Linked DNA regions of Homo sapiens: region 2 is linked to region 1. Evidence: fine-mapped QTL for protein levels in blood plasma. A gene starts in region 1. The other region holds a variant in brackets. All regions are shown on one strand. Distances are between the middles of the regions.

What was found. PIP is the chance, under the fine-mapping model, that this variant and not a neighbour inherited with it causes the effect. The UK Biobank Pharma Proteomics Project read protein levels with antibody pairs (Olink). The fine-mapping took linkage between variants from a reference panel, not from the people measured, so its PIPs are less certain.
Region 2: its variant is fine-mapped to the plasma level of the TNFRSF17 protein (UK Biobank, PIP above 0.99).

What each region holds. Positions count from the first base shown.
Region 1 is chr16:11,957,267-11,973,692 of GRCh38, forward strand. It overlaps TNFRSF17 (TNF receptor superfamily member 17), which reads left to right and starts at 7,944. Exons shown (of 3, transcript NM_001192.3): 1 at 7,944-8,188; 2 at 8,929-9,075; 3 at 10,304-10,802. The coding sequence starts at 8,059. The coding sequence ends at 10,581. It also overlaps a transcript of NPIPB2 not described here and the pseudogene UBL5P4. RefSeq lists a silencer at 5,811-5,980 and enhancers at 7,492-7,611, 7,732-8,171, 15,490-15,990.
Region 2 is chr16:12,271,596-12,288,021 of GRCh38, forward strand. It overlaps SNX29 (sorting nexin 29), which reads left to right. Exons shown (of 21, transcript NM_032167.5): 15 at 6,338-6,441. Among named protein-coding and RNA genes, the nearest start is that of SNX29-AS2, 93 kb to the right of the region's middle. RefSeq lists an enhancer at 12,701-12,830. The variant GGAAGGTGGCTTTAGA/G (reference allele first, on the strand shown) is at 7,760.

The sequences.
Region 1 (16,426 bases):
CGATTCTCCTGCCTCAGCCTCCCGAGTAGCTGGGACTACAGGCGTGTGACACCACGCCCGGCTAAGTTTTATACTTTTAGTAGAGACAGGGTTTCACCACGTTAGCCAGGATGGTCTCCATCTCCTGACCTCGTGACCCACCTGCCTCGGCCTCCCAAAGTGCTGGGACCTTGTGAACCACCGTGCCCTACCAACTTTTGTATTTTTTGTACAGACGGGGTTTCACCATGTTGGCCAGGCTGGTCTTGAACTCCTAACCTCAAATGGTCTGCCCGCCTCAGCCTCCCAAAGTGCTGGGATTACAGACCTGAGCCACCGTGCCTGGCCCTTAAATCAGTAGACTTTGAATAAAGGACACTGCCCTTCATAATGTGCGTGGGCTTCATCCAATCAGTTGAAGGCCTAAAAAGCAAAGACCAAGATTTCCTGAAAAAGAAGGAATTCAGCCTCAAGACTGAAACACAGACACCCTCTCTGAGTGTCTGGCCTGCCTGGCTTGCCCTGTGGATTTCAAACTCAGTACTGCAACATCCACTCTTACGTGGATTTTCAGTCTGCTGGCCTGCCCTGCGGAGTTTGGACTTGCCAGCTCCTACAATTGCATGAAGCAATTCCTTAAAGTAAATCTCTGTCTCTAGCTCTGTATCTCCTTTTGGTTCTATTTCTCTGGAGAATTCTACTGATACTTAGATATTCCCCAATTACAGAATCCCCCACACATCCTGCCAACATCAGCTAAGCCGTGTTTTTGCAAACTCTCCCCAAATAACCTGACACAAATCCAAATCCTATGATGAGAACTTTCTAACATTGTCTTTATTGAGTCACTCAGGACTGACTACTTAACTTGTGGGGCCCAGTACACAGTGAAAATGCTGGCTGGGTGCGGTGGCTCACTCCTGTAATTCCAACACTTTGGGAGACTGTGGCGGGCAGATCACCTGAGGTCAGGAGTTCAAGACTAGCCTGGCCAACATAGCAAAACCTCACCTCTACTAAAAATACAAAATTAAGCTGGGCGTGGTGGGTGGGTGCCTGTAATCCCAGCTACTCAGGAAGGCTGAGGCAGGAGACGTGCTTGAACCCAGGAGGCGGAGGTTGCAGTGAGCCCAGATCACGCCACTACAGTCCAGCCTGGATGACAGAGCGAGACTCCGTTAAAAAAAAAAAAAAAAATCCTAGGCCAGGCATGGTGGCTCATGCCTATAATCCTAGCACTTTGGGAGGCCAAGTGGGGTGGATGGCTTGAGTCTAGGAGTTTGAGACCAGCCTGGGCAACACAGCAAGACCCCCATCTTTGCAAAAAATAAAGTTAAATAAAAAACCTAGCCAGGCAAGATGGCATGTGCCTGCAGTCCCGGCTACTCAGGGGACTGAAGTGGGATGATCACTTGGGCCGGGGAGGTTGAGGCTGCAGTGAGCTTTGATCTCACCACTGCACTCCTGCCTGGGTAACAGAGTGAGACCCTGTCTCAAAAACAAAGTAAAATAAGAAAGCCTGTAGGTTGAAAATATTAAGGTTAAAGAGGTGGTAACAATCAGGGTTGGTTTGGGGAGCTGAGCTACCATGGGTGAGTGTTACGGGATAAGGGAAGGAATGAGACTTTGCACAATTATTGCAGGATCTCGGGAGGTGAAGATCTGGGAGTGGGACCAGAGGAGTCACCAACCAGTGGATCTAGAAGTCAGGAATGTCTGTTTGCCAAAGTGGGGCTCTGCAGGGGGAGCTCGTAGAGGGGTTTAGTTTGCCCCTGTATGGCTCTTGCCTCTGTGAATGGGCAGCCAAGCATTTGGTGCTGGGGCTCGGGCCGTGGCAGAAGCAGCTTTAATGGCTTTGGGAGTTTCCAGCACCACTTTGCTTCCTTAGAGCTGTGAGTGACAAGTGAAGCTTGAGGCTGGTGTGAGTACTGGATTCCTCACTGTTCCTTCTATGTCACGCAAGGGCAAACACAGCACTCTTTTGGTGATGTGATTACATCAGCACCTGTCTCATAAAACTTAAAAAAAAATCTTTGTTTCAAAATCATGCTCCTAGCCAGGCACAGTGGCTCACACCTGTAATCCCAGCACTTTGGGAGGCTGAAGTGGGAGAATAGCTTGAGGCCAGGAATTCAAGACTTGTCTGGGCAGCAGAGCAAGACCCTGCCCTTACAAAAAATTAAAAAGGAAAAAAAATTGCTATGCATGGTGGCGTACTATCGTAGTCCTAGCTACCTGAGAGGCTGAGGCGGGAGGATTGTTTGAGCCTAGGAATTCCAGGCTGCAGTGAGCTGTGATCACCCAACTACCTCTAACCGGGTGACAGAGGGAGACCCCGTCTCAAAAAAAAAAATCATATTATTAAAAAAAAATATTCAAACACTGCTAAAGATTTTTCAATGAAAAGTGAGTCTTTTTCTTTCTTTAGATTTTGTCTATTGCCAGAGACAGTCCATCAGTCTTCTTTCTAGCTTTGCAAAAAAAGTCTCCGTTTATGTCTGTCTATTCAGACACTACCTATTTTATTTTTTTAAATTTTATTTTATTTGAGACAGTCTTGCTCTGTTGCCCAGGCTGAAGTGCAGTAGCACACAACCATGGTTCACTGTAGCCTCAACCTCCTAGGTTCAGGTGATCCTCCTGCCTCAGCCTCCTGAGCAGCTGGGACCACAAGCACGCACTACCACACCTGGCTAATTTTTAAATTATTTGTAGAGATAGGGTTTCCCTGTGTTGCCCAGGCTGTCTCGAACTACTGGGCTCAAGTGATCCTTCTACCTCAGCCTACCAAAATGCTGGCATTACAGGTGTGAGCCACCGTGCCCAGTCTGTACTTTGTGTTTTTCACTTAGTGATTTATCTTTCATATGAGACCACATCTGTCTCATTCTTTCTGATGGCCATAGTCTTCCATTGTGAGGCTCCCAGTGACGAACAGTTCTGTTGCTCTAGGCTCTTATGAATAGATGTGATGTCACAGTAAACTACATTGTACCTGAGATTTTAAGTACCTGAGCAAGTATATCTGTCAGACACAATAGTGTTTTCTTTCCAAAGAGTTAGCAAAGCTTTCTTCCCCTGGCTTCTGGCTTCCCAGGTATGGTTCCCTTTTTTTTTTTTTTTTTTTGAGACAGAGTCTCCCTCTGTCGCCCACGCTGGAGTGTGCAGTGGCATGATCTCAGCTCACTGCAACCTCTGCCTCCCAGGTTCAAGCAATTGCCCTGCCTCAGGCTCCCACGTAGCTAGGATTACAGGTGTGCGCCACCATGCCCGGCTAATTTTTTGTATTTTTGGTGGAGACGGGGTTTCACCATGTTGGCCAGGCTGGTCTCAAACTCCTGACCTCAGGTTATCCGCCCTCCTCAGCCTCCCAAAGTGCTGGGATTACAGGCATGAGCCATGGCGCCTGGCCTCAGGCATGGCTCCTATTGGCTGCCTCCTCTTCCTCACCACTCCTTAAATATCTACCATCTGGCTTGCATCAGGGACACACTCAAAGGCCATCAATGACCTGCTTCTTTAGTGCATCGCCCCTGATCTTCCTGTAGAATTTGACTCCACTCCCTAACTCAGGCTAAAATCTCTCCTTGCTTGACTGTTATGGGAGATTTTTTTTTCTTTCTTTTCTTTTTTTTTTTTGAGACACGGTCTCACTCCGTAGCCCAGACTGCAGTGCAGTGGCGCAATCTTGGCTCACTGCAACCTCTGCCTCCCAGGTTCAAACGATCCTCCTGCCTCAGCCTCCCAAGTAGCTGGGATTATGCACGCCACCACGCTTGGCTAATTTTTGTATTTTTAGTAGAGACTGGGTTTCACCATGTTGGCCAGATTGGCCTCAAACTCCTGACTTCAGGTGATCCACCTGCTTCAGCCTCCCAAAGTGCTGGGATTACAGGTGTGAGCCACTGCACCCAGCCTGGGAGATAATTTTTGTTCTCTCCCTATTTCTCTAATCATGTTTGTCCTGTCTCCTTTGCCTGTCTTCCAAAGGTCAGCAATCTGGCAGAGGCTGAGGGAGTGGAGCCTCCTGGGCCAGCTGCTTCAGCTTCTCCCTGTCCTGCCTAGGCAGCCTCTCCCACTTACCTCACCACCTGGACCCCAGAGGAATTTGACGTTTTGATCAATATCTAAGTTCAAAATCTTTCCTAGGCTCAAGTCCTGCATTTAAAAAAAAAAGTATTTTTTTAAATTTCTGCATTTTATTTTCATGATTTTAGCATTTATTATGGACTACTTTAAAAATACAAAAAGAGGCCAGGCGCAGTGGCTCACGCCTATAATCCTAGCACTTTGGGAGGCCGAGGCGGGCGAATCACTTGAGGTCAGGAGTTCGAGACCAGCCTGGCCAACATACTGAAACCCCGTCTCTACTAAAAATACAAAAATTAGCCAGGCCTGGAGGCACGCACCTGTAATCCCAGCTACTAGGGAGGCTGAGGCAAGAGAATGGCTTGAACCTGGGAGACGGAGGTTGCAGTGAGCTGAAATTTTGCCACCACACTCCAGCCTGGGTGACAGAGTGAGACCCTGTTTAAAAAAAAAAAAAAAAAAGGTATGAGCAGTTGTATAATATGCTCTATCTGCCTCCTGGGTGGATACAAATAAAATAGGTAGGGTCTGAATAGACAGACATAAACAGAGGCTCTATTTGGAAAGACAGAAGACTGACAGTGGCTGGGCACTGTGGCTTACACATGTAATCTCAGTACTTTGGGAGGCTGAGGCAGGAAGATCACTTGAGCCCAGGAGTTCAAGACCAGCCTGGGCAACATGATGAAATCTCATCTCTACAAAAAATACAAAAATTAGCTGGGCATGGTGGCATGTGCGTAGTCCTAGCTACTCAGGAGGCTGAGGTGGGAGGATCGCTTAAGCCCAGAAGGTGGAGGCTGCAGTGAGCCCTGATGGTGCCACTGCACTCCAGCCTGGGCAATAGAGCAACACCCTGTCTTAAAAAAAAAAAAAAAAAAAAAGGCTGGGTGCGGTGGCTTGCACCTGTAATCCCAGCACTTTGGGAGGCCGAGGCGGGTCGATCACGAGGTGAGGGGATTGAGACCATTCTGCCCAACATGGTGAAACCCTGTCTCTACTAAAAATACAAATATTAGCTGGGCATGGTGGCGCATGCCTGTAATCCCGGATCATGAGGTCAGGAGATCGAGACCATCCTGGCTAAGATGGTGAAACCCCATCTCTACTAAAAATACAAAAACAAAATTAGCCAGACATGGTGGTGGGTGCCTGTAGTCCCAGCTACTCTGGAGGCTGAGGCAGGAGAATGGCATGAACCTGGGAGTCGGAGCTTGCAGTGAGCTGAGATAGCGCCCCTGCACTCCAGCCTGGGTGACAGAGCAAGATTCTGTCTCAAAAAAAAAAAAAAAAAACCAAAAAAAAAGAGGAAGACTGACAGTAATTACTGCCTCTGGCAAGAGAGAGGAAATCCAGGGTAGGAAAAAGACTTACTTTTCATTGAAAAATCTTTGGCACTGTTTGAATACTTATTTTTTAATAATATGAATTTTAAAAACAAGAATTATCAGTGGCTGGGCGCGGTGGCTCACACCTGTAATCTCAGCACTTTGGGAGGCCAAGGCAGGTGGATCACGAGGTCAGGAGACTGAGACCATTCTGCCCAATATGGTGAAATCCTGTCTGTACTAAAAATACAAATATTTGCTGGGCATGATGGCGCATGCCTGTAATCCCAGCTATTCCGGAAGCTGAGGCAGGAGAATCACTTGAACCCGGGAGGCAGAGGTTGCAGATCGCACTACTGTACCCCAGCCTGGCAACAGAGGGAGACTCCATCTCAAAACAAACAAACAAACAAACAAACAAATAAATAAAAAATCATCCAGGCTAGGTGGCTCATGCCTGTAATCCCAGCAGTTTGAGAGGCCAAGGCCGGTGGGTCACCTGAGGTCAGGAGTTCGAAACCAGCCTGACCAACACGGTGAAACCCCGTCTCTACCAAAAATACAAAAACTAGCCAGGCGTGGTGGCATGCACCTGTCATCCCAGCTACTCAGGAGGCTGAGGCCAGAGAATCGCTTGAACCTGGGAGGTGGAGGTTGCAGTGAGCCGAGATCGCGCCATTGCACTCCAGCCTGGGCAATAACAGTGAAACTCCAGCTCAAAAAAAAAAAAAAAAAGAATAAGTTTTTAAAGGTTGGGGTGCTTGGAGGATGAAATAAAGTAGAAGGGATGGCAGGTTTCCTTGGCACACTCCTTGGGCCTTAAGAAAGTGTAAAGAATAAGAAAAATACAACAAAAGGAAAACAACAAATATCAATGTATCCACCACTCAGCTTAATAAAGAAAATATAATAAACACAGGTGAAGCCTTTTTTGTGCTCCCCTTCTTCCCCACCACTTACCTCAGAGATAATCACTATACTGAATTAGGAGTTTGCCATTTCCTCAAATTTTAATTGAGTCCTGCATTTTTGACAAACATCTGGACGTCTCTATATGGGTATTTCACTCAGTATGGTTAAAAGCAAATTCAAGCTGGGCTTAGTGGCTCACACCTGTAATCCCAGCGCTTTGGGAGGCCGAGGTGGGTGGATCACTTGACCCCAAGTGTTTGAGAGCAACCTGGGCAACACGGCAAAAACCCATCTCTACAAAAAATACAAAACTTACCAGGCGTGCTGGCGCATGTCTGTAGTCCCAGCTACTTGGAAGGCTGAGGTGGGCAGATCACCTGAACCCAGGAGGTGGAGGCTGCAGTGAGCTGTGATTGTGTCACTGCACTCAGCCTGGGAGACAGAGTGAGACTCTGTCAAAAAAAAAAAAAAAGGCAAATTCAAGTGATCCATTTATGTAAACAGAAAAATGCACTATATAAATGTATCTATCTAGAATTCAGGGATCGGTGAAACAAAAGACATCGCATCGGCAGGTCTGTTTGCAACTTCTGGGATACACCAGGTGTTAGCGGTGATGACTTCTGGATGCTTGGACTGTGGATTTTTAAAATGGTTTTATCTGCTCATCTGTATTTCTAAATTTTCAACAATGGAACATAGATTATTGTATTATTATTATAATACCCCAAACCTATCTTCCTCTCAGCCCTCTTTCCACGAGCTCTTACCCTAAATGTCTCTTTTTCTGTCAGTGGCATTGTGCGTCTTCCTTAGTGCATCACCTCTGATCTTCCTGTAGAATTTTTTTTTTTTTTGAGATAGAGTCTTGCTTTGTCACCCAGGCTGGAGCGCAGTGGCCTGATCTTGGCTTACTGCAAACTCCGCCTCCTGGGTTCAAGCACGTCTCCCTGCCTCAGCCTCCTGAGTAGCTGGGATCATAGGTGCCTGCCACCATGCCTGACTAATTTTTGTATTTTTAGTAGAGACGGGGTTTCACCATGTTGGCCAGGCTGTTCTGGAACTCCTGACCTCAAGTGATCCACCTGCCTCGGCCTCCCAAAGTGCTGGGATTACAGGAGAGCGCCACGGCGCCCAGCTTACACCAGACTACTTTTTAAAATGTTTTTGTAAAGTCAGGGTTTCGCCATGTTGCCCAGGCTGATTTTGAACTCCTGGGCTCAAGCAATCCTTTTGCCTTTTGACTCCCAAAGTCCTGGGATTACAGGTGTGAACCCCTGCAGCTGGCCTCAATGTTAAGATCTTAAGGGGCACAGCACAGACCTTGTCTTGTCTATCTCCCTGGCACCTCTCACAGAGTACAGCTTATTAACAGATGTTCCAGAAACTGTTACTGAACATTCGGCTTGATGCTGTGGGCTTGTCTGCATCTTGCAACTGTCACCTGGCTGAGAAATTTCTTCTATAAATAAGCAGTTTCTGTTTCAGATGTGATATGCCCTGATATTTACACCCTGTCTCTTACCCCATCCAAGACTCAAACTTAGAAACTTGAATTAGATGTGGTATTCAAATCCTTAGCTGCCGCGAAGACACAGACAGCCCCCGTAAGAACCCACGAAGCAGGCGAAGTTCATTGTTCTCAACATTCTAGCTGCTCTTGCTGCATTTGCTCTGGAATTCTTGTAGAGATATTACTTGTCCTTCCAGGCTGTTCTTTCTGTAGCTCCCTTGTTTTCTTTTTGTGATCATGTTGCAGATGGCTGGGCAGTGCTCCCAAAATGAATATTTTGACAGTTTGTTGCATGCTTGCATACCTTGTCAACTTCGATGTTCTTCTAATACTCCTCCTCTAACATGTCAGCGTTATTGTAATGCAAGTAAGTAATATTGCTTGAACGATTATTCATTGGTGTGAACTATTCTGTCTATATGGACTGCTTATTCAGAGAATCAACATAATGGGCATGATGGTGAGTTTTCTTGAATCAAAAAGAGAAAGGAAGCAAGGCAGTGATTTTAATGTTTATGGAAACAAAGTAATTATTTGGAACTGAACTTGATATGATTCAGCACTATTAGCAACATAGATTTTTTTTAAAAATCAGCTCTTCTAATTAAGTGATATTTAGAATTTAAAAGTCAATGTTCATTAATTAAGGTGATTGAATGGAAATAATCCATACTTGATTATTTTGCTATCAAAACAATCCATAATTCATTATTTTAGCAAAATAATCAAGTATGACAGCCGGGTGCGGTGGATGGCTCACACCTGTAATCCCAGCACTTTGGGAGGCCGAGGTGGGTGAATCACCTGAGGTCGGCAGTTTGAGGCCAGCCTGGCCAACCTGGTGAAACCCTGTCTCTACTAAAAATACAAAAAATTAGCTGGGCATGGTGGCACAGGTCTGTAATCCCAGCTACTCGGGAGGCTGAGGCAGGAGAATTGTTTGAACTTGGGAGGTGGAGGTTGCAGTGAGCCGAGATCGCGCCACTGCACTCTAGCCTGGGCAACAGAGCAAGACTTTGTCTCAAAATAAATAAATAAATAATAACAATAAAGTATGTGAATATTATGTTATCAGCTCATTATCTGTCTGATGTTCTTTTCATAAAGGTGTGACCAATTCAGTGAAAGGAACGAATGCGATTCTCTGGACCTGTTTGGGACTGAGCTTAATAATTTCTTTGGCAGTTTTCGTGCTAATGTTTTTGCTAAGGAAGATAAACTCTGAACCATTAAAGGACGAGTTTAAAAACACAGGTTGGTTTGATGGTGAATCTTTGAAATCTATTTCCAGGGGATGGCTATTGTGAGTTTCAGTTCCTTTTCTTTTTTTAGCGTTGACTATTTCACTTCGTTACAGCCCTTTCGAATGTGTTAGAACATTGTTACATTAAATGAACTTGGTAGAGGTGAGCCATCTTCATTCTGATTTTGACACCTTGGCAGATTTTCTACAATGTCAGTCTTCTCCAGGATTCTTCCACTGTTAATTACTCTATTGAAAGTACTAAGGCTTTCTTGGGAAACATCAGTCTCTTTGACTAAAGTTAGCACATCGATTAAATGCCACATTATCAGAAACTCCTAGCCAGGTCTGCTACTGTCAGGAAAAGCATATTTGTCAAGATCTATGGTCATGTTTTTATACAAATATAGGTGTTCTTTGCTTGAGTGAACATTTTACTACTGAAAAATGTTAGAAATGAATAACCAGTTGCTCCTGAATTATTTGAGGAATCATCTAAAAAATAATTATTTTTAAGCAATAGAGAACCAGTCCCAGAAAAATGAATGTTCTACTTAAGTGCCTCTTAAGATAAAAATACTTCTGCAGCACCTTTGCTCATGATTGGATTCCCAAGCATGTACAGCCACTGCCCTATTTCTGTATGCATTTATTTATTTATTTATTTATTTATTTATTTATTTATTTAGAGATGGAGTCTCGCTCTGTGGCCCAGGCTGGAGTGCAGTGGCGTGATCTCAACTCACTGCAGCCTCTGCCTCTTGGGTTCAAACAATTCTCCCATCTCAGCCTCCTGAGTAACTGGGACTATAGGTATGTGCCATCACCTCCGACTAATTTTTGTACTTTTTGGTAGAGACAGGGTTTCATCATGTTGGCCAGGATGGTCTCAAGCTCCTGACCACAAGTGATCTGCCCGCCTCAGCTTCCCAAAGTGCTGGGATTACAGGCGTGAGCCACAGGGCCCAGCACATACTCATTCTTTTTTACTGAAAAGATCTGTTTCAAGCTGGGTGTGGTGGCATGGAGCTGTAGTCCCGACTGCTCTGTAGGCTAACGTGGGAGGATTGCTTGAGCCCAGGAGTTTGAATGCAGCCTGGGCAACACAGTAAGACCCCACCTCTAAAAAATGAAAAAATCTCTCTCACATTGCTTTGAGTCCCGATGTGTACTGCTAAGACTCTCATGACCACATTCTCTGTGAAGTTTGGGTTAATGTTTCCGTTTCTACATAATTAGGATCAGGTCTCCTGGGCATGGCTAACATTGACCTGGAAAAGAGCAGGACTGGTGATGAAATTATTCTTCCGAGAGGCCTCGAGTACACGGTGGAAGAATGCACCTGTGAAGACTGCATCAAGAGCAAACCGAAGGTCGACTCTGACCATTGCTTTCCACTCCCAGCTATGGAGGAAGGCGCAACCATTCTTGTCACCACGAAAACGAATGACTATTGCAAGAGCCTGCCAGCTGCTTTGAGTGCTACGGAGATAGAGAAATCAATTTCTGCTAGGTAATTAACCATTTCGACTCGAGCAGTGCCACTTTAAAAATCTTTTGTCAGAATAGATGATGTGTCAGATCTCTTTAGGATGACTGTATTTTTCAGTTGCCGATACAGCTTTTTGTCCTCTAACTGTGGAAACTCTTTATGTTAGATATATTTCTCTAGGTTACTGTTGGGAGCTTAATGGTAGAAACTTCCTTGGTTTCATGATTAAACTCTTTTTTTTCCTGACATCTAAGTTTTTATTAACGTGAGTTTTTAAAAACAAGCATGTATACCAGTGTGGGGGGTGAGGGTGGGAGAGAAAGGTGGGAGGGGGAAAGAATTCTAACCTATTGATAATAAAGCTCCAGTTTTGGCCAGGCGCGGTGGCTCATGCCTGTAATCCCAGCACTTTGAAAGGCCGAGGCGGGCAGATTACCTGAGGTCAGGAATTTGAGACCAGCCTGGCCAACATGGTGAAACCCTGTCTTTACTAAAAATACAAAAATTAGCTGGGCATGGTGGTAGGCACCTGTAATCCCAGCTACTCAGGAGGCTGAGGCAGGAGAATCGCTTGAACCTGGGAGGTGGAGGTTGCAATGAGCTGAGATAGCATCCCTGCACTCCAGCCTGGGCAAGAGGGTGAGACTCCGTCTCAAAACAAAACAACACAAACAAACAAAAAGACCTCCAGCTTCATCTTCTGCTGGATTTTATAGTGCCCCAAAGATATGTGGTCCTTAAAAATTGTATACCACTTATTCAGGAGTCTTGTTCCTGAAAGGGTTGTTCTTGTTACAGCCCTAGTCTGGGCTGTAATCAGCTTCTTAAGGTCCACAATGGTGTTATCTGTGTAGCATTTAACACAGACCTTCTCCACACTATCCACTCTCCACTGAGGTTGTTGCAAACAACCTCAATCATCCTAGCTGATGCTCATCACCTTGAACATGCTGACATGACAATCTTCTCACTAGAGACCTCTAAACGCTTGACTTACTGAAAAAAACAGCATTCTGTAGATCTCAGTAACCAATTTCTTTTTCTTTTCTTTTTTTTTTTTTTGAAACGGAGTCCTGCTCTGTTGCCCAGGCTGGAGTGCAGTGGCATGATCACAGCTCACTACAACCTCCACCTCTCAGGTTCAAGCGATTCTCTTGCCTCAGCCTCCCGAGTAGCTGGGATTACAGGCACGTGGCACCATGCCCTGCTGATTTTTGTATTTTTAGTAGAGATGGGGTTTCACTGTGTTGGTCAGGCTGGTCTTGAACTCCTGACCTCAGGTGATTCACCTGCCTTGGCCTCCCAAAGTGTTGGGATTACCGGTGTGAGCTATCGCGCCCGGCCCCAGTCATACGCTTCTATGGTTAGGGCGCTTCTCTCCGATATACATACATACAGATTTCAGGAAGGATCGGATGTTTCTCTTGATTTTTGAATTTTATTTATTTATTTTTTGAGACAGTCTCGCTCTGTCGTTGACACGGGAGTGCAGTGGTGCGATCTCAGCTCACTGCAACCTCTGCCTCCCGGGTTCAAGCAATTCTCTGCCTCAGCCACCCGAGTAGCTGGGATTACAGGTGCCCGCCACTGCGCCTGGCTAATTTTTGTATTTTTAGTAGAGACAGGGTTTCACCATCTTCGCCAGACTGGTCTTGAACTCCTGACCTCGTGATCCACCTGTCTTGGCCTCCCAATGTGCTGGGATTACAGGCGTGAGCCACTGTGCCTGGCCTTTTCTCTTTATTGTTAAAGGAAAGCTAACTTATGTACTTCTGCAAACAGGAGAAGCCTAGAATCAACCAGACGAATTCAGTGTGCAGTGCACAGGTGGTTCTTGGCCTTGTGAGCTTCCAGCTTAATGAAAGCATCAGGCATTACTATAATTACACAAGTAAATGTGTAATCGCAAACTGTGATAACGGTGCACGACATACTGTTTTCAGCCCAAAATGTGAGTGGTGCTATAATAATCATATCTAACCCTTATATAGTCTTACTAACGTGCCAGGGACTGTTCTAAGTGCTTCACCTGTACTAGCTCATTTTATTTTTTTGAGACGGGGTCTTGCTCTGTTGCCCAGGCTGGACTGCACTGGCATCATCTTGGCTCACTGCAACCTCTACCTCAAGAGGTAGGTTCAAGAGTCTCCTACCTCAGCCTCCCAAGTAGCTGGGATTACAGGTGCCCGCCACCACACCCGGCCTATACTAACTCATTTTAAGCACACAAAAACTCCTGGGTATGGCCGGGTGTGGTGGCTCATGCCTGTAATCCCAGCACTTTGGGAGGCCGAGACAGGCAGATCACCTGAGGTCAGGAGTTAGAGACCAGCCTGACCAACATGGTGAAAACCTGTCTTGTCCCACATTTCCAGTCTTTATTTTTATTCATTTATTTATTTATTTTTGAGATGAAGTCTCACTCTGTCGCCCAGGCTGGAATGCAGTTGTGCTATCTGAGCTCACTACAACCTCTGCTTCCTGGGTTCAAACAATTCCCCTGTCTCAGCCTCCTGAGTAGCTGGGACTACAGTCGCATGCCACCATGCTCAGCTAGTTTTGGTATTTTTACTACAGATGGGGTTTCACCATATTGGTCAGGCTGGTCTCGGACTCCTGACCTCAGGTGATCCACCCACTTTGGCCTGCCAAAGTGCTAGAATTATAGGTGTGGGCCACTGCACCTGGCCTTCCAGTGTTTAAAATCAGCATTTTTTTTTTCTTTCTTTTGAGACACAGTTTCACTCTTGTTGCCCAGGTTAGAGTGCAGTGGTACGATCTTGGCTCACTGCAACCTCCAACTTCTGGTTTCAAGCGATTCTCCTGCCTCAGCCTCCCGTGTAACTGGGATTACAGGCACCTGCCACCACGCCTGGCTAATTTTTGTATTTTTAATATAGACGGGGTTTCACCTTGTTGGACACGGTGGTCTTGAACTCCTGACCTCGTGATCTACCTGCCTTGGCCTCCCAAAGTGCTGGCATTACAGGCATGAGCCACCGCGCCTGGCCTAAAATCAGCATTTTCTTACTCGTTTCTTTTTTTTTTTTGAGATAGGGTCTTACTCCAATGCCCAGGCTGAGTGCAGTGGCATAATCTTGGCTCACTGCAGCCTCGACCTCTGGGGCTCAGGTGACCCTCCCACCTCAGGCTCCTGTGTAGCTGGGACTACAGGCATGTACCACCATTCTCGGCTAATTTTTTTTATTCTTTTAGTAGAGATGGAGTTTCGCCATGTTGCCAAGGCTGGTCTTGAACTCCTGGGCTCAAGCGATCCTCCGACCTTGGCCTCCCAAAGTGCTGGGATTACAGGCATAAGCCACCACGCCTGGCCTAAAATCAGCATTTTCATCTGCTACATTGTTGTGTGCTAGGTCAGTCATGTTAAAGAAAAGGGTCAAACTCTAAAACATGTGAAGAGATTTATTCTGAACCAAATATGAGTGACCAATGGCCATGACACAGCCCTCAGGAGATTCTGAGAACACATACCCTAGGTGGTTGGGCTACAACTTTGTTTTATACATTTTAGGGAGACAAAAAGCATCAGTCAATACATATAAAATGTACACTGGTTCGGTCCAGAAAGGCAGGCCAACTAGAAGCAGGTATGGGGGAGTGGGGTGGTGGGGGGGTGGGTGGTTCCAAGTCATAGGTAGATTCAGAGATTTTCTTTCTTTTTTATTTTTTTAGACAGAGTCTTGCTCTGTTACCCAGGCTGGAGTGCAGTGGCGCAACCTTGGCTCACTGCAACCTCTGCTTCCCAGGTTCAAGCAATCCTCCAGCCTCAGCCTCTCAAGTAGCTGGGATTACAACTGTGCGGCACCAAGCTCAGCTAATTTTTGTATTTTTAGTAGAGATGGGGTTTTGCCATGTTGGCCAGGCTGGTCTTGAACTCCTCACCTCAAGTGATCTGCTCTCCTCAGCCTCGCAAAGTGCTGGGATTACAGGTGCGAGCTACCGTGCTCCTGGCCTAGATTCAAAGATTTTCTGATTGGCAATTGGTTGAAAGAGTTAAGTTATGGTCTAAAGATTTAGAATCAGCCAGGCGTAGTGGCTCTTGCCTGTAATCCCAGCACTTTGGGAGGCTGAGGTGGGTGGATCACGAGGTCAGGAGTTTGAGACCAGCATCGCCAACATAGTGAAACCCCATCTCTACCAAAAATACAAAAAATTAGCCGGGTGTGGTGGCAGGCACCTGTAATCCCAGCTACTCGGGAGGCTGAGGCAGGAGGATCACTTGAACCTGGGAGACAGAGGTTGCAGTGAGCTGAGATCACGCTATTGCACTCCACAGCCCAGGCGACAATGCGAGACTCTGTCTCAAAAAAACAAAAACAAACCAACAAAAAAATTTCTGTGTTAAGATAAGGGATTGTGGAGACCGTAGTTCTGTCATGCCAATGAAGCCTCCAGGTGGCAGGCTTCAGAAAATAGATTGTAAATGTTTCCTACTAAGGAGTCTGTTCTGGGCTGGATGCCGCGGCTCACGCCCGTAATTCCAGCACTATGGGAGGCCGAGGTGGGCAGATCGTAAGGTCAGGAGTTTGAAACCAGCCTGAACAACATGGGGAAACCCCGTCTCTACAGAAAATACAATAATTAGCCGGGGCTTGGTAGCATGTGCCTGTAATCCCAGCTACTTTGGAGTGTGAGGCACAAGAATCACCTGAACCTGGGAGGCGGAGGTTGCAGTGAGCTGAGATCACACCACTGCACTCCAGCATGAGTAACACAGTGAGACCGCATCTTCAAAAAAAAAGAAAAAAAAGCTAGGTGTGGTGGCTCACGCCTGTAATCCCAGCACTTTGGGAGGCTGAGGCAGGCAGATCATGAAGTCAAGAGATTGAGTCCATCCTGGCCAACATGGTGAAACCCCGTCTCTACTAGAATTAGCTGGACGTGGTGGTGGGCGCCTGTAATCCCAGCTACTTGGGAGGCTGAGGCAGGAGAATTGCTTGAACTCAGGAGATGGAGGTTGCAGTGAGCCGAGATCACGCCAGTGCATTCCAGGCTGGCAACAGAGCGAGATTCGGACTCAAAAAAAAAAAAAAATAGCTGGGCGTGGAGGCTGATGCCTGTAATCCCAGCACTTTGGGAGGCCGAGGCGGGCGGATCACCTGAGGTCAGGAGTTTGAGATCAGCCTGGTCAACACGGAGAAATCCTAACTCTACTAAAAGTATAAAATTAGCCGGGCGCGGTGGCACATGCCTGTAATCCCAGCTACTCAGGAGGCTGAGGCAGGAGACTCGCTTGAACCTGAGAGGCAGAGGCAGAAGTTGCGGTGAGCCGAGATTGTGCCATTGCACTCCAGCCTGGGCAACAAGAGTGAAACTGTCAAAAAAAAAAAAAAAAAAAAAAGACTCTATTCTATCAGTAATTCTAAAAGGGAGGAGTCTATCGTGAGGCATGTCTGGCTCCCATTTCCCATCATGGCCTGAACTAGTTTTTCAGGTTGCCTTTGGAGTGCCCTTGGCCAAGAGGCGGGCTTCATTCAGATGACTGGGGGACTGAGAATTTTATTTTTGGTTTATAGCCATGATTTCCATAGCTGGGATTTGGTTCTTTCCACTGTGGGGGCCAAGGGGAAAACTTCCTCTTAGTCCTTTGAAAGTTGCTGAAAAATCAGCTCAGAAAAGGCAGATAAACTGGAGAAAAGGTAGACAAGTTTTACTGACTTGTACCCTGGGGGAGAACCACAGAGTGAATACCTATCCCTCAACAGAGTTCAGCAGCTTATAAATTATTTATTTTATTTTTTGAGACAGAGTTTTGTTCTTGTTGCCCAGGTTGGAGTGCAGTGGTGCCATCTCGGCTCACTGCAACTTCTACCTCCCGGGTTCAAGCGATTCTCCTGCCTCAGCCTCCC
Region 2 (16,426 bases), 310 kb after region 1:
TCTTTGTTGAATGTAATATATTGGAACCATCTTTTTTTTTTTTTTGAGACAGAGTCCCACTCTGTTGCTCAGGCTGGAGTGCAGTGGCGTGATCTCAGCTCACTGCAACCTCCGCCTCCTGGGTTCAAGTGATTCTCCTGCCTAAGCCTCCTGAGTAGCTGGGATTACAGGCATGTGCCACCATGCCCGACTAATTTTTGTATTTTTAGTGGAGACCAGGGTTTCACCTGTTGGGCAGGCTGGTGTTGAACTCCTAACCTCAAGTGATCCGCCTGCCTTAGCCTCCCGAAGTGCTGGGATTTCAGGTGTGAACCACTGTGCCCTGCCTGGGGTCCATCTTCGAAGCTGCTTACTGATGGGAAAAGTATGATATAGTTAGGCTTAATTTTGTATTATTTCATACATGGAATTGAAATTTTTGGCATGCTTGCTAAAACTGAACCAGGGCAGCAAGGAAGTCAGGTAGTTGCAGGGGAAGGTTGACTGGCTAGTTGCTGAGAGAACTTATGTAAATTCATGACTGTCCAGGGTCTTTCCCCAAGCCTTTAAGGTCAAAAAGCTTATTTCTGCACCTCTGCCCCCACCAGTGTTGAAGGTTGCTGATTCTTCTTAAATATAGTCCTAGAGGGGCTGGTGCCTTGGGGACGGGGCTAGTGCCTTGGGGACAGGAGGCCAGTGGCGTGATTGCTAATGAGATGTGTGGACTTGAAGCGGGTTGAATGAATTGTGATGAGCAGGACCTCCTTGCAGAGGGCAGCAGCCTGGGCCTGGGCAAGATGAAGAGATCATTTGGAGTCACGGGTAGAGCAGGGCTGTGAGTTCGCCATTTTGCGTATGTATTAGCACCAGGCTCTGCTGAGCAGCTGCAGCCAGCTTCATGCTGCGGTGCCTGCCAAGGTATCTGTGTCCTGGTTGCCCTGCCGACGGGCTCCACTGCTCTCTTACCTGACTTTTCTAAGTCCCATGGCTAAGTGCAGGCTCCCCTCAAATTCTGATTACATAGTTTACATATCACTAACATATAATCATAGTTTACACATAATTTTGTTTGTGTCTTTAAATCAAAACTTTGCAGGTACATAGATAAAGTCATTGGTTCTCTTAGCTTTATTACAAAAGACAGGAGGCCTCTGGCTGTCACTGTCTCCCACTTGCCACCCTTCAGAAGCCCCTCTTGGAAGCTTTTCCACTCATGCTTTGGGTTGTTGCCTCCATATCTCTGATCAACACGCCTGTTGCCGCTTTTTTATTTTTCAGTTTTTGGAATTACTTATTTCTCATCGTGGAAGAGGAAGGGTAACTGTCTTTGACTGCTCCACCTCCAGAAAACACACGCAACACGCAGCTCCCCATCCTCTGGCACAGTCATATCATCATTTTGGTTAGATCAGTATTCAGTGATTACATTATTATAACTGGAAATGCTATCTACAGCTGTGAAGTGCATGATCGTTTTTCCTGCACGATCTCTTGATTTCTCTGGTGTTAATACTTAATTCAACTCCAAGTTCATCCTCAGTGTGTTAATCCCCCTGGTGCCTTCAGGCACTGTAGGCCGCCTCCCGCTTGCACCCAAGGCAGTCTCTCCTGGTGCCTTCTGGCCTACTCTAGCCAGAAGCCTGCTGCTGGTGGGCCCACACTCTCCAACTCACTTTTTTTCTTAACAGCTTTCTTGAGATATAATGCACATAACATACTGTTCAGCCTTTGAGAGTGCATAATTTTAGTGGTGGTTTTTTGTTTTTTGTTTTTTTTTTTTTGTTGTTGTTTGTTTGTTTTTGAGATGGAGTTTTCCTCTTGTTGCTCAGGCTGTAGTGCAATGGTGGGATCTCGGCTCACTGCAACCTCTGCCTCCCGGATTCAAGTGATTGTCATGCCTCAGCCTCCCGAGTAGTTGGGGTTACAGGCGCACACCACCATGCCCGGCTAATTTTTGTATTTTTAGTAGAGACAGGGTTTCACCATGTTGGCCAGCTGGTCTCGAACACTTGACCTCAGGTGATCTGCCCACCTCAACCTCCCAATGTGCTGGGATTACAGGCGTGAGCCACCAAGCCCGACCCTCAGTGGTTTTTATATTCACAAATTGTGCAACCATCGCCACTCTCTAATTCCAGAACATTTTTGTCATGCCCCAAAGAAGCCTGATACCCTTTAGCAGTAGGGTCTTCATCCCTCCTTCCCCCAGACCCTGGCAACTAAGACCTTCTCTGGACATTTCGTGTACGTGGGCTCAGGTAATCTGCAGCCTTTCGGATCTGGCTTCTTTCCCCTGGCTGAATGCTCTCACGGTCTATCTGTGTTGCAGCGTGAGTCTGCTCTTCATTCCTCTCATGGCTGAATAGTACAACCCTGCATGGCTAGACCGCATCTTGTTCACTTACCAGGTGATGGCCATTTGGGTTGTTTATGCTTTTTTGTTACTATGAAGTATTCTCTGGCTCCCTTTTGTGTTGCATCCCCTATATCTTGGGATCTATGTATTACGATTGCTAGAATTCTTCCCTTCTTTATGTGCGGGGTAAAGTTTCTGCACGGTCACATGTCTGAAAATGCCTTTATCCTGCCTCTCACGTGGCTTGCCTGGGTGTATAAGGCTCAAAATAATTTTTCTTCAGAATGTTGAAGAGGTTTCTTCATTGTTTTCTAGCTTTCCATGTTGCTGTTTAGAAACCCTATGCCATTTCTAGTTTTTATCCTTTGTAAAAATTCTTCTTCCACTTCAGAAGTTGGTAGCCTGTCTTCTCTGTCCCCTGTGTTCTCAAGTCTGTGAGTGAGGCTTGCTTTTGTCCATTTTGCTGGACATTCATTGAACTCTTCCATCCTGCCCCTCGTGTCTGTTGGCTCTGAATTATATCTTTGATTTCCTCTTCTGTGTGTTATCTTTTTCTCCTTTCTTGATCTCTTCTCCATTTGGACTTGTAGTTCTCTATTCTCCCCACCTCTTTTTTTTTTTTTTGAGACAGAGTCTTGCTCTGTGGCCCAGGACGGAGTGCAGCTATGCCATCTCAGTTCACTGCAACCTCTGCCTCCGAGGCTCAAGCGATCCTTCCACCTCAGCCTCCCGAGTACCTGGGACTACAGGCATGTGGCACCACACCATACTAATTTTTGTGGTTTTTGCAGAGGTGGGGCTTCACCATGTTGCCCAGGCTTGTATTCTATTTTGTTATTCGTTGCCTCTATTTTCTGGAAATTTTGCTACCCTTTCCTTTACAGTCCCTGTTCTATTTCTGCTGTTATAGTTTCACTCTGTAAAAGGGCTTTTGTGTGCTTTGTGTTTTTCTTTTTCTCCTTTTTAAATATCTCCGTATTCTTATTTCATGACTACACTGTCTCCTCCTCTCTCTCTGGAAATATTACCCACAGTTTGCTTTTGAAGTGTTTTCCCTAAATAGTCTCTCTTTCCTGCAAGTTGCTTTTCTCTGTTTATTCCTGTCTCAGTCTTTCATCTTAGGTGCTTTTCTCAAATGGGATGTGATTTCTAGATGTCTACTCAGGTGTTGGAATGGGGTTAGAAATTGATCCAAAGCTCCGTGAACTTTGACTTTGGGCCTCTTGGGGTGATCTGGCTGTGCCATTCCACTGGAGAACTACCCCTGGTCTCCAAAGTTTTTTTAGATTCCTGGGAGAATACCTTTCCATTCCCTGGCTTAGAGGCACATGCTGTCTGCCTGCTCTTCTGGGAATGAGTGGGGCTGGGGAGAGGGAAGAAGAATGGGAGAAACTCAGAAGTTCAGTGTGTGTTACTTTTATGTCTCCATTAAAAAAATGGAATACCCTAACCTCAACTCAGTCCAGACCTACTGCGTTTTCTCCAGAGAATAAACATGTATATTTTGCTAATCGCTTCTTAAACAGACTTTTAAAACCTTTCTTTTGCTTTCTAGTCCTGTGTTCACCGTCATTTCCAGAGGTGTCTTGTGCTAACAGTTCATTAGCGTTTTATGAATCATTCCATTCTCATCAGATATTATTTTGGTGGCATCCATGTCTGTTTAGGAATGAAATTTTCTCAGGTCTGTCAAGTTATTTATCAGTCATCTACCTGATTCTTAGCTTCTGTAATTTTGTTTTTTTTGTTTCCTCTCCAATTCTTTTTTTTTTTTTGTGAGCGATGTCTTTATAAAAACCTTTTTTTGCTTTTATTGTTATTTTTGACACATAATAAATTGTGCATATGTATGAGGTAGTGTGTGATATTATGATAGATGTATACAAAATTTAATGATCAAATCTGGGTACTTACCATATTCATCATCACCTCATAGGAAACATTTTAATTGTTTTTTTTTTTTTTTTTTTTTGGGGGGCGTGGTCAGAGTCTTGCTCTGTTGCCCAGGCTGGAGTGCAGTGGCACCATCTCGGCTCGCTGCAATCTCCGTCTCCCTGGTTTAAGTGACTCTTCTGCTTCAGCCCTCCGAGTAGCTGGGATTGCAGGAGCATGCCACCATGTCCAGCTGATTTTTGTATTTTTAGTAGAGACAGGGTTTCTCCATGTTGGCCAGGCTGGTTTCGGACTCCTGACCTCAAGTGATCCACCCGCCTTGGCCTCCCAAAAGTGCTGGCATTACAGGTGTGAGCCACCGCACCTGGCCTTAATTGACATTTTAATGGGATTTTGAGAGGATGTGAGTGTAAATTACTGTGTTCAGGCTCTCATCTTTACAGAGTTCTTCACAGTTTTTCTTTCCATAACTGTTTGGGGTTATCTGTTGTGATTGGGTCACTCCCTGCATTCGTGGCCCAGGACTCAGGGCTTCTTTCTGCGTGTTTCCTGCTGTCACTCAGGGTCTTGAGCCTTCGGCGGGCTCTAACAGTGTGGTCTGAGGAGGCTTAGCCACCTGGCTTAGTTGCATCAGTTTTGACTCCTGGTTTTGCTCAGCCTTCCTGACTTTCACCTTCTTCCTGAAGGCTACCCGCATCACTGGGGGGCTAGTCTCAGATCCTTGTTTAGCCTCACTGCCCCTCCATACAGCTGATAGGGCATCCAAGGGATTTCTTGTCCCAGAACACACAGGAAACTGATCCTGCATCATTGATGCTTGTTTTGAGGCTTGAGGCTAATCCACATTCTTAAACATGCTGTGGATGTTTTTCTTTGCCCTTGGTGTGGGAGGTCTTCCCTGTTCTTGTTTTCTGCTTTTCTTGGAACTATCTGGTTCATTCTCAGCTTTTCTTTATTTGTTTTTCCCTGCAGAGTGGGCATATATGGGCATATACATAATCATGGAAACACTACTCAGAGCCGTTTGTGTGCATGCTTGCTCTGACCTGGGAGCCAGTCTCTTTAACATGTCTTTTGCATTGACGTTCTGTGTTGGTTTCCGAGTTTTTCTAAAGGTTTTCTTGCTGTCATCCTAAGTATGGTTTATAAATACCAATCCTTGGTTTTACACATACTCTGACCCCCATTAGTGCTCCACAGCTGGCTGTCAGCAGGCCCTACCTCACTGGATCACTTTTTTGTTGTAGAAAAAGGAACTTGGCAAATATAAAAGATGTAAGTGGACTGAATGCAGTGGTTCACACCTGTAGTCTCAGCACTTTGGGAAGCTGAGGAGGGAGGATCACTTGAGGCCAGGAGTTTGAGACTAGCCTGGTCAACATGGTGAGACCTTGTCTCTACAAAAACTAAAAAAACAAAAAAAGAACTAGCCTGCTGCAGCAGGGTTATGCCTACAGTCCCAGTGACTCAGGAGGCTGAGGCAGGAGGATCGTTTGAGCCCAGGAGTTCGAGGCTGTAGTGAGCTAAATGATTGATTGTGCCACTATACTCCAGCCTGGGTGACAGAGGAGACCCCATCTCAAAAAAACAAACAAAACCTCCACCCCCCAAAACAACCAGCTCTTATGTCTTGCCAAACCTGCCAAAACATTGCCTGTTTTCTCCTGAAATGGAAAGTAGTGACAAGATTATTTCTTGACTCCTGTGCTTCTGTCTCATGACAGTTCTTGCATTTTAAAAATACAGCTTATCGCTTTTTATTTTTTTAAGTGACAAAGTCTAGTTATGTCACCTAGGCTGGATGACAGTGGCACAATCATAGCTCATGGCAGCCTCGACCTCCTGGGCTCAAGCGATCCTCTCAACTCAGCCTCCTGAGCAGCTGACACTACAGGCGCACACCACCATTCCTGGCCTTGTCACTCGTTTTATTGTACTTAGGTGAAAATGTCCCATTGTTGAAGTAGTTAGTAAGTGTGTGTGTGTGTTTTTCTTGAGAGCTTTTTCAGTCTGAAGTCATCTGAGAAAGAAGAATTTTTTCTTTTTTTACTGGGAGAATAATTTTCGATACTGTTGAAATATTTATGACATGTCTCTCTTTCTCTAAAGTGCCAAATCTTTGGAGTGTTGATGGAGAAGTTACAGTAGCTGAACAGAAGCCGGGAGAAATTGCTGAAGAACTCGCAAGCTCCTACGAAAGAAAGCTCATCGAGGTAAGGCCGGTGGAGTCTGTGTGTCTTTGTTTCTGATGTTGGCTGCGTTGGAGACTTTCCAGGGTAGGTCCAGCCTATTCTAAAGACACGTGAGCAAAACGACCAAGCAACTCCTCAGCCCCACAAAACAAAGCAAGACCAAATCAGTGTGCTTTATAAAAAGAAGTATGAGCTGATCCTTTGAAAAATGTCACTTAAATATTGGAACTTTTTGGCACTTATGATAAGGACATAAGAGAAAACATATATGTGTAACATTAAAAATAAAACAATTGTAAGATTTGGAGATGAAAACAGAGAATATCACATGCACCTTTGTGCTGTTAAATGTGAAAATATGGATGAGGTGAACTATTTTTCAGAAAAACATTCATTATCAGAATTAATTGAAGATGAGGCAAACTGGTCGAAGGGACCCCCTCACCCTCAAAAGAAAAGAAAAAAAAAACCAAAACATTTTGGAATAAAGTTGTACAAATTACTGAAGAACTGCTTCCTTAGAAGACAGCAAGCCTAGAGGGTTTCATGGTGATTTCTAGGAAACTCTTCAAGGTAATACACAAAGAGCCCTTTGCTATTTATATTTCCTGAGAGGGTTTTTATACGTCTCTATCTTGGTTCAGGTATGCATTACTGTGATATAAAAAAATCCTGACAAAGATAGCATAAAAAAGAAAACTATCAAATAGAATCATTTGTGTATAAGATGTACAAAAATTCTAGAAAGTCATTACTCAAATTCAGTCGCATATTAAAAGAACAGTGCACATAAAACATAGGGTTTATTTAGGATTGCAAGGATGGCTGCATGTTGGGAAATTCATCCATGTAAGTCATCTCATTAGTAGCCTCAAAGAGGACAACCAGATAATTATCTTGGTAGGAAATGAAAAATCATTTTATAACCTTATTGATACCTGATTAAAAAAAGGGTAATTCTTGGATATGATAAAGAGGTTTTTCAAAAACCATTGATTTATTACCATATTCAATGGTAAAGTTGAGAAGCTATGTTTTTGATGAGGTGTGTGTACATGTTGTAATGGTCCCTTGGTGGTAGTATTGTAAGTCATGTCTGTATGTACATACATACACATGCTAAGTATACAAGCAAACTTTCGGTTCTTTCTAAATCTTCTACAGTGAGTTTTATTTTGATAATCAAGAAGACACTCGCTCATTGCTGTGTAGACATACCTGAGCTTGGGTGGGTTTCAGAGGCCCAGGGCCTTGGAGGGTGTTCCCCTAAGTTCATTGCTGGTGCAGGCTGCCATTCTTACCATCTGTTTTGTCTGGTCTCTAAATTGCCTCTAAAGAA[GGAAGGTGGCTTTAGA/G]AACAGCTTGCATTCTAACTCAGGTGAGCTCAAGGGAAGGCAAGCTGAGGCCTTAACACACAGGTTGGTGGGGATGAGTCAAAAGCCAGGCTGGGGAGGCCTGGGGACAGGGCACTCCTGTGTGCTCTCTGCCCAGTGCTCTGCCCTTCCTTGGGAGCTCCCTCAGTGGGGCTGTGAGACTCAGACTTGGCTGGTGGCAGTGCCAGGGTTCTGGGCCATGAGTCTGTGCCCGGAAGTCCCAAGTGGAGAGGGAAGCAGGGCCCCAATCTCAGGATTGGGACGACTTGTGTCAGGATTCGAACCCCTGAAAGGTAGGACTGTGTCTTTGCCACCTCTGTACGTTCCACAGCCACTTATTGGCAAATGGTAGGTGCTGCGTAACCCTTGAATTTTTAAGTTCTCCTGGGATGGGGATGTCTGGATTTACTGAATGAATGAATGAAGGCCTGATGAGCTAGAGAAGGTGAAAGGGTTCTCAGAATGAAAGTGCAGGATGAAAGGTTCTGTTCCTCTGGGGGAACAAGGGTGCTGTGGTGAGGACTCCATCAGACCAGTGCAGCTCAGTGAGGGTGCCTACTTCGCAGGGTCCACAAAGGCATTGAGTGCTGGGTCCAGGCAGCGCTCTCCGTGGAGATTCTCCACCTGTGGGGCTGCTGGGCAGCGTGTAGGGGTGGGGTGGGGGTGTTTGACCCTCTGATTGATTGGGTGTTTGACCCTCTGAGCCAAGTGCCACTAGTTCATTCGTGGGCCGGGTGGTTGGATGATTTATTTCAGTGTTTATGAGATGCCTGCTTTCTGCATCAGAAACAGCAAGAACAGAGGCTGAGTACAAGGAAAGCATTGGCAGGAACTGAAAGGAGACTCACGGGTCGGGAACAGAGTAGATGAGGGGAGAAAGGTGATGCTGTGGCTGTGTCCTGGCCGTGTCACCACCCGCTTTGCTTTGACCATGTGAAAATCTCATCCCCTGCTGTGCTGACCTGAGCTGAGATGTGTGGAGAGGATCAGGTCATGTGGGGAGTTACTGCAGGGTCCACCTGCCTGGCCGTTCTGGCCAGCTGTGAGAGGGTGAGTGTGGAACCACCAAACGGGAGGGCTCAAGGTTGAGGCATGAAGGTTCGTCTTACTGGCCTCAAGCTTCCTTTCTTTTCCTTCTTGTTTGTTTTTTTTATCCCGGGAGCAGTAGAGATGCTGGCTGTGGTCAACGAGCTGAGAGAAGTGTGAGGTTGAAGCAGACATGTCCTCAAACGGCATTTACTGCACCGGATTGATTTTTCCTTCTTTTTTGGTTGCAAAGACAGGTTCTGCCGGTGATCTTTCATCTGTGAATAGCATTAGCATTTCACTACACCAATACTTTTGCTGTTAATCGAGACCCTCAGAACGTTCTTTGTGATGCTTCTGTCATTCTGTTAATGGGTTGATTTTTACCAAAATAGTTGTAAAGACTTGTTAGAGTAATGAACGAATGTGAGGGGAAAAGTTGATATAGTTTCTTTCCGTGTCAGAAGGGCAAAGGAAGAAGAAGAAACATTGTATTTATTTAGTTATTTATGGAGACAGGGTCTCAGTCTGTCGCCTAGGCTGGAGTGCAGTGGTACAGCCTTGGCTCACTGCAGCCTCAACCTCCCCGGCTCAACGGATCTTCCTACCTCAGCCTCCCAAGTAGCTGAGACTACAGGCATGTGCCACTATTCCCAGCTAATTTTTTTAAATTTACTTTTTCTAGAGATGGGATCTTGCTATGCTGCCCAAGTTGGTCTCAAACTTGTGACCTCCAACAATACTCTCACCTCGGCCTCTCAAAGTGCTGGGATCACAAGTGTATGCCATTGTGCCCAGTCCATCTCATTTTAGATAATAAGGATATTTGGAACACCTTAAACATGGTGATTCATCCCAGTGCGAAGGGAGTTTCTGAGAATTTTTTTATCTAGGTGTCTTTGAGAGCATGAAAGCCAACTCATCTATCTGCACATACACACTACACATTTGTGCTTGGTGACCTGGAATCCAGTGTCCTGGACAGCACAGAACCTAAAGTCGGTGCCATAAAGCCCTCTTTAAATGGCTGGTGGGCATCTTGTGCCAAGGACTGGAGGTATAAAAATTGTTCCTGACACCCTGTGGTTGTTAACTCAGGAAAACAAGGAGGACAGGAGAATTCTGGCAGGTATACATTAATCTGGCAAGGGTAAAAGCACTAGTAGTATCACAGCCCCTGTAATACTAGCAGCAGCTGTCAGGTGAGTACTGTTAGATCCAGGCACTGTGCTGGGGTTTTTACGTAGATGAACATATGTGATCCTGAGAAGAGTTCTTTGAGGAGGACACTCTTGCTGCCTCCAGTTCACAGACAAAGCTTTGGGAAGTTTAGTAACTTTCCCAAGAGTCCTTAGCTGCTAAGAAGCAGAGCTGGGGCTGGGCGTGGTGGCTCAAACCTGTAATCCCAGCACTTTGAGAGAACGAGGCGGGTGGATCACTTCAGACTAGGAGTTCGAGAGTAGCCTGGCCAACACGGGGAAACTATGTCTGCCAGATAGAATCTGTTTCCATTCTCAAAAATTAGCCGGTCATGGTGGCATATGTCTATAGTCCCCAGCTACTTGGGAGGCTGAGGCAGAGAATCACTTGAACCCGAGAAGAGGAAGTTGCAGTGAGCTGGGATCATGGCTCTGCACTCCAACCTGGGCGACAGAGTGAGACTCCATCTCAAAAAAAAAAAAAAAAAAAAAAAAATGCAGAGCTGGATTTGAATCCTCACAGTTGAGCACCAGAGTGCAAACCCACAACTCTCTGCCGTGCTTTGGAAGGCTGAGCTCATTGAAGAAGAAGGTTAACTTGACGGAAGAGACGATCACTACCGATGTTCAAGAGAATGAATGGCAGGACACAAGGGGGAAAACTAGTAGTAGATAACAGCAACTGCAGCAATATCAGCCATTTGAGATGGCGCTGGTGGTGGGGACATCACAAACCCTTTGTTACTGGAGAAGAAAGGGGAAAAGCACATCTTGTCTGTGCCAAGGATTACCTGCTTCCAAAGCAACTTGTAGCAGAACAGCAGAGTGAGAGTTCCTCGAGGGCAGTGCGGACATTGTCTTTTAAATTGTATCTTCATTGCCCAACCCATCTCCAGCATATAGTAGGAGAAACATAACATTGAATAGAAGGCCAGCCTGTTGAGTGGCTTCAGTCATCTTGTGTAATGCGTAAAGAATGATAAATGTGAGTCCTAGAACCTCAGATTGGGAGTGAATTGTCTAAGGCATCACAATTAAGTATTTTTTTGTTTTGTTTTTTGAGATGGAGTTTTGCTCTTTTTGCCCGGGCTGGAGTGCAATTGCCTGATCTCAGCTCACTGCAACCTCCCCCTCCCAGGTTCAAGCGATTCTTCTGCCTCAGCCTCCTGAGTAGCTGGAATTACAGGTGCCCACCACAATGCCTGGCTAATTTTTTGTATTTTTAGTAGAGACAGGGTTTCATCGTGTTGGCCAGGCTGGTCTCGAACACCTAACCTTAGGTGATCCGCCTGCCTTGGCCTCTCAAAGTGCTGGGATTACAGGCGTGAGCCACTGCACTCGGCCCACAGTTAAGTCTTAACTAGAGCTCAGAGCAACCTGGTAGAAAGGATTAGATAGCTAATAAGAGCACATGGGTTCTGGAGAGGAGGCACACTTTACTCTGGCCCTTAATGTTAGCAGGAGGCATAGCTTGGAGAGCCTGGGGACACCATTGAGTAATAGATGGTGCCAACTCAATTTGTGCACATCCATTGAGCGCCTTCTCAGTGTCCAGCCCTTAGCTTCCTTTCTCCTCCCTTTGTGGCTTTTCTTACCCTGGGAGCAGCAGTGTTGATGGTTGTAGGAGATGAGCCAAGGAAGTTGTGAGGTTGAAACAGAGACATCCCTGAAATGGCATTGACTACCCTAGATGGAGTTGTTTTTTTTTTTTTTCTTTTTCTTTTTTGAGACAGAGCCTCACTCTGTCACCAGGCTGGAGTGTAGTGGCGTGATCTTGGCTCACTGCAAGCTCCACCTCCTGGGTTCAAGCGCTTCTTCTGTCTCAGGCTCCTGAGTAGCTGGGACTACAGGCACGCATCACCATGCCCAGCTAATTTTTGTATTTTTAGTAGAGATGGGGATTTCACCATGTTGGTCAGGATGGTCTTGATCTCTTGACTTCGTGATCCACCCACCTCAGCCTCCCAAAGTGCTGGGATTACAGGCATGAGCCACTTGCAGAGCGACTTCTGTTGCAAAGTCATTGGTGTTTCATCTGTGAGTTGCATTAGCTCTTCCTCATGCCAAGAGTGGTCCTAAGTTACAAAAATGAATGGGACGCAGTGCCTGTGTTTAGGGAGCTTGCATTCTTGTGGGTGAGGCAGACGTGCCTGTTCTAATTGTCAGGACAGATAATTGAAGTGCAGAGGTAGGGTTATACCCACAGGCCTGGAGCTGTGTCTTTGACGGCAGTTCTGCAGAGGTTGGCACCTAACCACAGCTTCTTTAGATAATTCCTCCCCACTTCTTAGGGACTGTTAGTGGTGATGCTCAGAATTTCTTCTGTAAACTTCCCCATGCTTCTTGAAATTCTAAGACACCAGAACAGAAACAACCAAGGTTTTGAAGATAAGATATTGGACACATCCAAGATTGATCTCTTCTGAGACTCTTGCTTCTTTACCTCTTTTAAGTACATTTCCTTTGGTTTGGACTCATCTTCAGAGATGTTCTATTCTTTTTCAGCAGTTGTCTTCACAACAATGTGAAGTGTTGGCGACATTCGGACTTTGGGCCTGCATCACTTTGTCGCTGCCTTCTGCAGCCTGGTGACTTGGAAAGCACATGTATCGCGTGTCAGACTGAGTTCAGATTTGCCACTTACTGCCGTATGTTCCTGGGCACGCCCCCTAACCTCTCTAAGCCTCAAGTTCTCTGTTAGTGAAATGCAGCCAGTCATACCTGTGAGTGGGTTTGTTTTGGGAATGACACATAAGAACCCAGCTGAGTGCCTGCAGTAGACAGGAGGTGTCTCTGTGCTTCCTCTTCTCCCCTCCATCCTGACTTTCTTTGGAGGGCTTCCCTCTCCACCATAGCGTGCTGTCTGGGTGGGACAGTATGTCCAAATGCTTTGCCCTGGTTTTGGTTCAGGGCTGGGTACATGACCTGAGCTAGGCCCATGGGGGCTTTAACTCTGGAGTTGTATAAGAATGCAGCAATGCTTGGGAGGCCGTTTATTCAATAGCAATTAACAGTAAGCATTTATTCAATAGACTAATAGCAATGAGTCTGATAAGACTCTAATTGTTTTCTGTGTTGAACTTGCCAGAACTGCTTTGGTTTCGGTTCCTTTTTTTTTTTTCTTTTTTTTGAGACAGAGTCTCATTCTGTCACCCAGGCTGGAGGGCAATGGCACAATCTCAGCTCACTGCAACCTCTGCCTCCCAGGTTCAAGCAATTCTCCTGCCTCAGCCTCCCGAGTAGCTGAGATTACAGATGCGTGCCACCACACCCAGCTAATTTTTTATATTTTTAACAGAGATGGGGTTTCGCCGTGTTGGCCAGGCTGGTCTCGAACTCCTGACCTCAGGTGATCCACCCACCTTGGCCTCCCAAAGTGATGGGACGGATTATAGGCATGAGCCACTGTGCCTGGCCTCAGTTACTTTTCTGAGCCTGATTTCCCCACTTTTCTGCCTGTTTATAGTGAATTCTATTTTAGCTTAGGTTAGAATCTGTTTATTTTGCTTACCAGCGGTGCTCTCACTTAGGTAAAGCTTTGTATCCGTATGTAATCAGTAGATGCCGTTTCCCTTCAGTTCTCCTTCCACTCACTGTTTAGCAGGGCTTAGCTCCCTCATGTTGTCTTCGGGCTCTCCCAGCTCTTGCTTGCCGGCACCGTTTTCTAGCTGTTTGCCCCACTTGTGTATCTTCTGCTTCAATATTGCCAGTCCATCCTCTGCAAACAGAACTTTACTCCCTTCCATATGGCAGGGCTCAGCTAGCTGATGATTGATTTTTAAAATTATAAGACACTTATCGTTTACTGTCTGAGTGTGGTTAGTCCCTGAATTTTTCTTGTGGGTAAAATAAATGGTGTATTAGCAACATTTGTTCTCATTATAATGGCAGAGTCGCTATTAATGGAAAAGTAAGCTTGAACATCAAGCTGGTAAAAAATACACTCATAATCACACGCTGTAGATAACTGTGAATGTGATCATCATTTTAATAAAGTGTAAAAATTCCGGAAGCAGCCAGGACCTTGGGAGCAGTTACACCACCAGTGCCTGCCTCATAAATTGGCACCAATGGGTTCCAACACTTCTCATGCGTGTCCAGGAGTCATTTTTGTATAAGAGCAGCATGGGCTTTTCAATAAAATACTGGATTTTTTATAAGGACTCAGGATAAAAAACTCTGAGCTGAGATCTACATTAAACTGATACTCAAAATGAAAGGTATGATGTTAGGTTTATTTATTTATTTATTTTTTATTTTTCTGATGGAGTTTCACTCTGTTGCCCAGGCTGGAGTGCAGTGGTACGATCTCAGCTCACTACAACCTCCGCCTCCTGGGTTCAAGTGATTCTCCTGCTTCCCCCTCCACAGTAGCATACGCTACCATGCTCAGCTAATTTTTGTATTTTTAGTAGAGACAGGGTTTCACCGTATTGGCCAGGCTAGTCTCAAACTCCTGACCTCAAGTGATCCTCCCACCTCGGCCTCCCAAAGTGCTGGGATTACAGGTGTGAGCCACTATGCCTGTCCTGTTTGTTTTTTTTTTTAATCACATGAAGCTGAGTGGATTGAGACCAGGCTCTTACCTCATATAGTTTGATTACCAAGCAAAATGGAGTGTTTAAGTGTCTCCTATATATCAGTGAAAAAGGGTAAGAAGTTATAGTTTCTAGCAGGATAGGTGTAATTCCCACTGAAGTGTGAATGACTAACAGGGCTAAACCTCCAAGGATTTTTTTTTTTTTTTTTTTGAGATGGAGCTTTGCTGTATTGCCCAGGCTGGAGTGCAGTGGTGTGATCTCGGTTCACTGCAAGCTCTGCCTCCCGGGTTCATGCCATTCTTCTGCCTCAGCCTCCCAAGTAGCTGGGACTACAGGCCCCACCACCATGTGAGGTTAATTTTTTTGTATTTTTAGTAGAGATGGGGTTTCACCGTGTAAGCCAGGATGGTCTCGATCTCCTCACCTCATGATCCACCCGCCTTGGCCTCCCAAAGTGCTGGGATTACAGGTGTGAGCCACTGTACCCGGCCCCAAGGTGTCCTTAAAATTTTTTTATTATGTAAAAGTTGAAACATATACAGAAATAAAAGTGTAATGAGCCTCTATGTACCCATCACCTGGCTGTAGCTGTTAGTACCTCTTGGCCAGTCTTGCTTCATCTGTATCCCGTCCCACCCATCAAACCTCAGCCTCTCATGGTATTTTGAAGAAAATCCCAGGTTCCATATTATTACATTCCTGAGTATTTCAGAATCTATCTTTAAAAGATAAGAGGTCTTTTAAAAACCCCACATTACTGCAATACCATAGTCATACTTTAAAAAGCCTGTTAAAAGAGGCTCGTGCTAGTCCCATTGATTCTTGGGTTGGAGTATCAGGGAGAGGAGCTTCTTTAAGAACGTCTTTTAGGGGGCCCCTGGCTCACTCTTTCTCCTTCCCAGCTTCCCGAACAAGGAACTGGAGCATCTCATTTATGCAAGATGGCTAAGCTCGGAGCTTTTCTGTCTTTTGGATGTGCCCTTTGCTTGGCTCTCTGCCTTGACTTCAGTTAACAACACACATAGTCATGTCAGCAGCACACTACACAGGCCCTGGGAAAGTGAGGGATTTGGAGATGAGGAGGTGTGACCACAGCCTGCAGGCTCCACCAGCGTATGGGTTTCCAGCCTCCAGCATGGTCTCCTTTACAAACAGACTCCTTCCCTAAGGAAGGTCTCTGAAGGAAGAGGAGGCAGGCTGTATCTCACAGGTGTCTCTCTGTTTTTTTTAAATTTTTTTTTTAACTGGTAAAAAGTAGGCAAAAGAGCATAAAGAACTTCCATATACTCATCACCCTACTTCAATAGTTATCAACTCTTGTCCAGTCTTGTTTCATCCACTTACCCTCCTGTTTCCCCAGCATCAAGTAGTGTTTGGAAGGAAATCCAAAGCACAACGTTGATTTCACCCATAAGTAGTTAGGAATATATTGGTAGTAAACTACAAGGACTGTCTTTTTAAAACAGAAAAAACTCTGTAGTATCATTATCACACCCTAAAGTTAGCAGTAATTCCTTAGTATTGTCAAATATCTGGTGAGTGTTCAAATTTGTAGTTTAAACAGGTGTTTGAATCAGGATCCCAGTAAGGTCCCCACCTCGTGATTGGTGATGGATCTCTTCAGTGTCTTTTAATCCATATGTTCTGTCACCTGTGTCTCCCTGCCTCTCCCTTTCTTCCTTACGTGTCATTTATTAGTTGAAGAACCTGGGTTGTTGATCCTAGAGAATTTCTCCTACCAGTGTTTTTTGAGGGTGTATTACATGTGTGGTACTTGGTGACCTGTTAGGTTTTTCATGGCATTTTATGAAAAGCAGCTATAGATATTGATGTCACAGCCTGGGCAATGTAGTGAGACCCTGTAATTA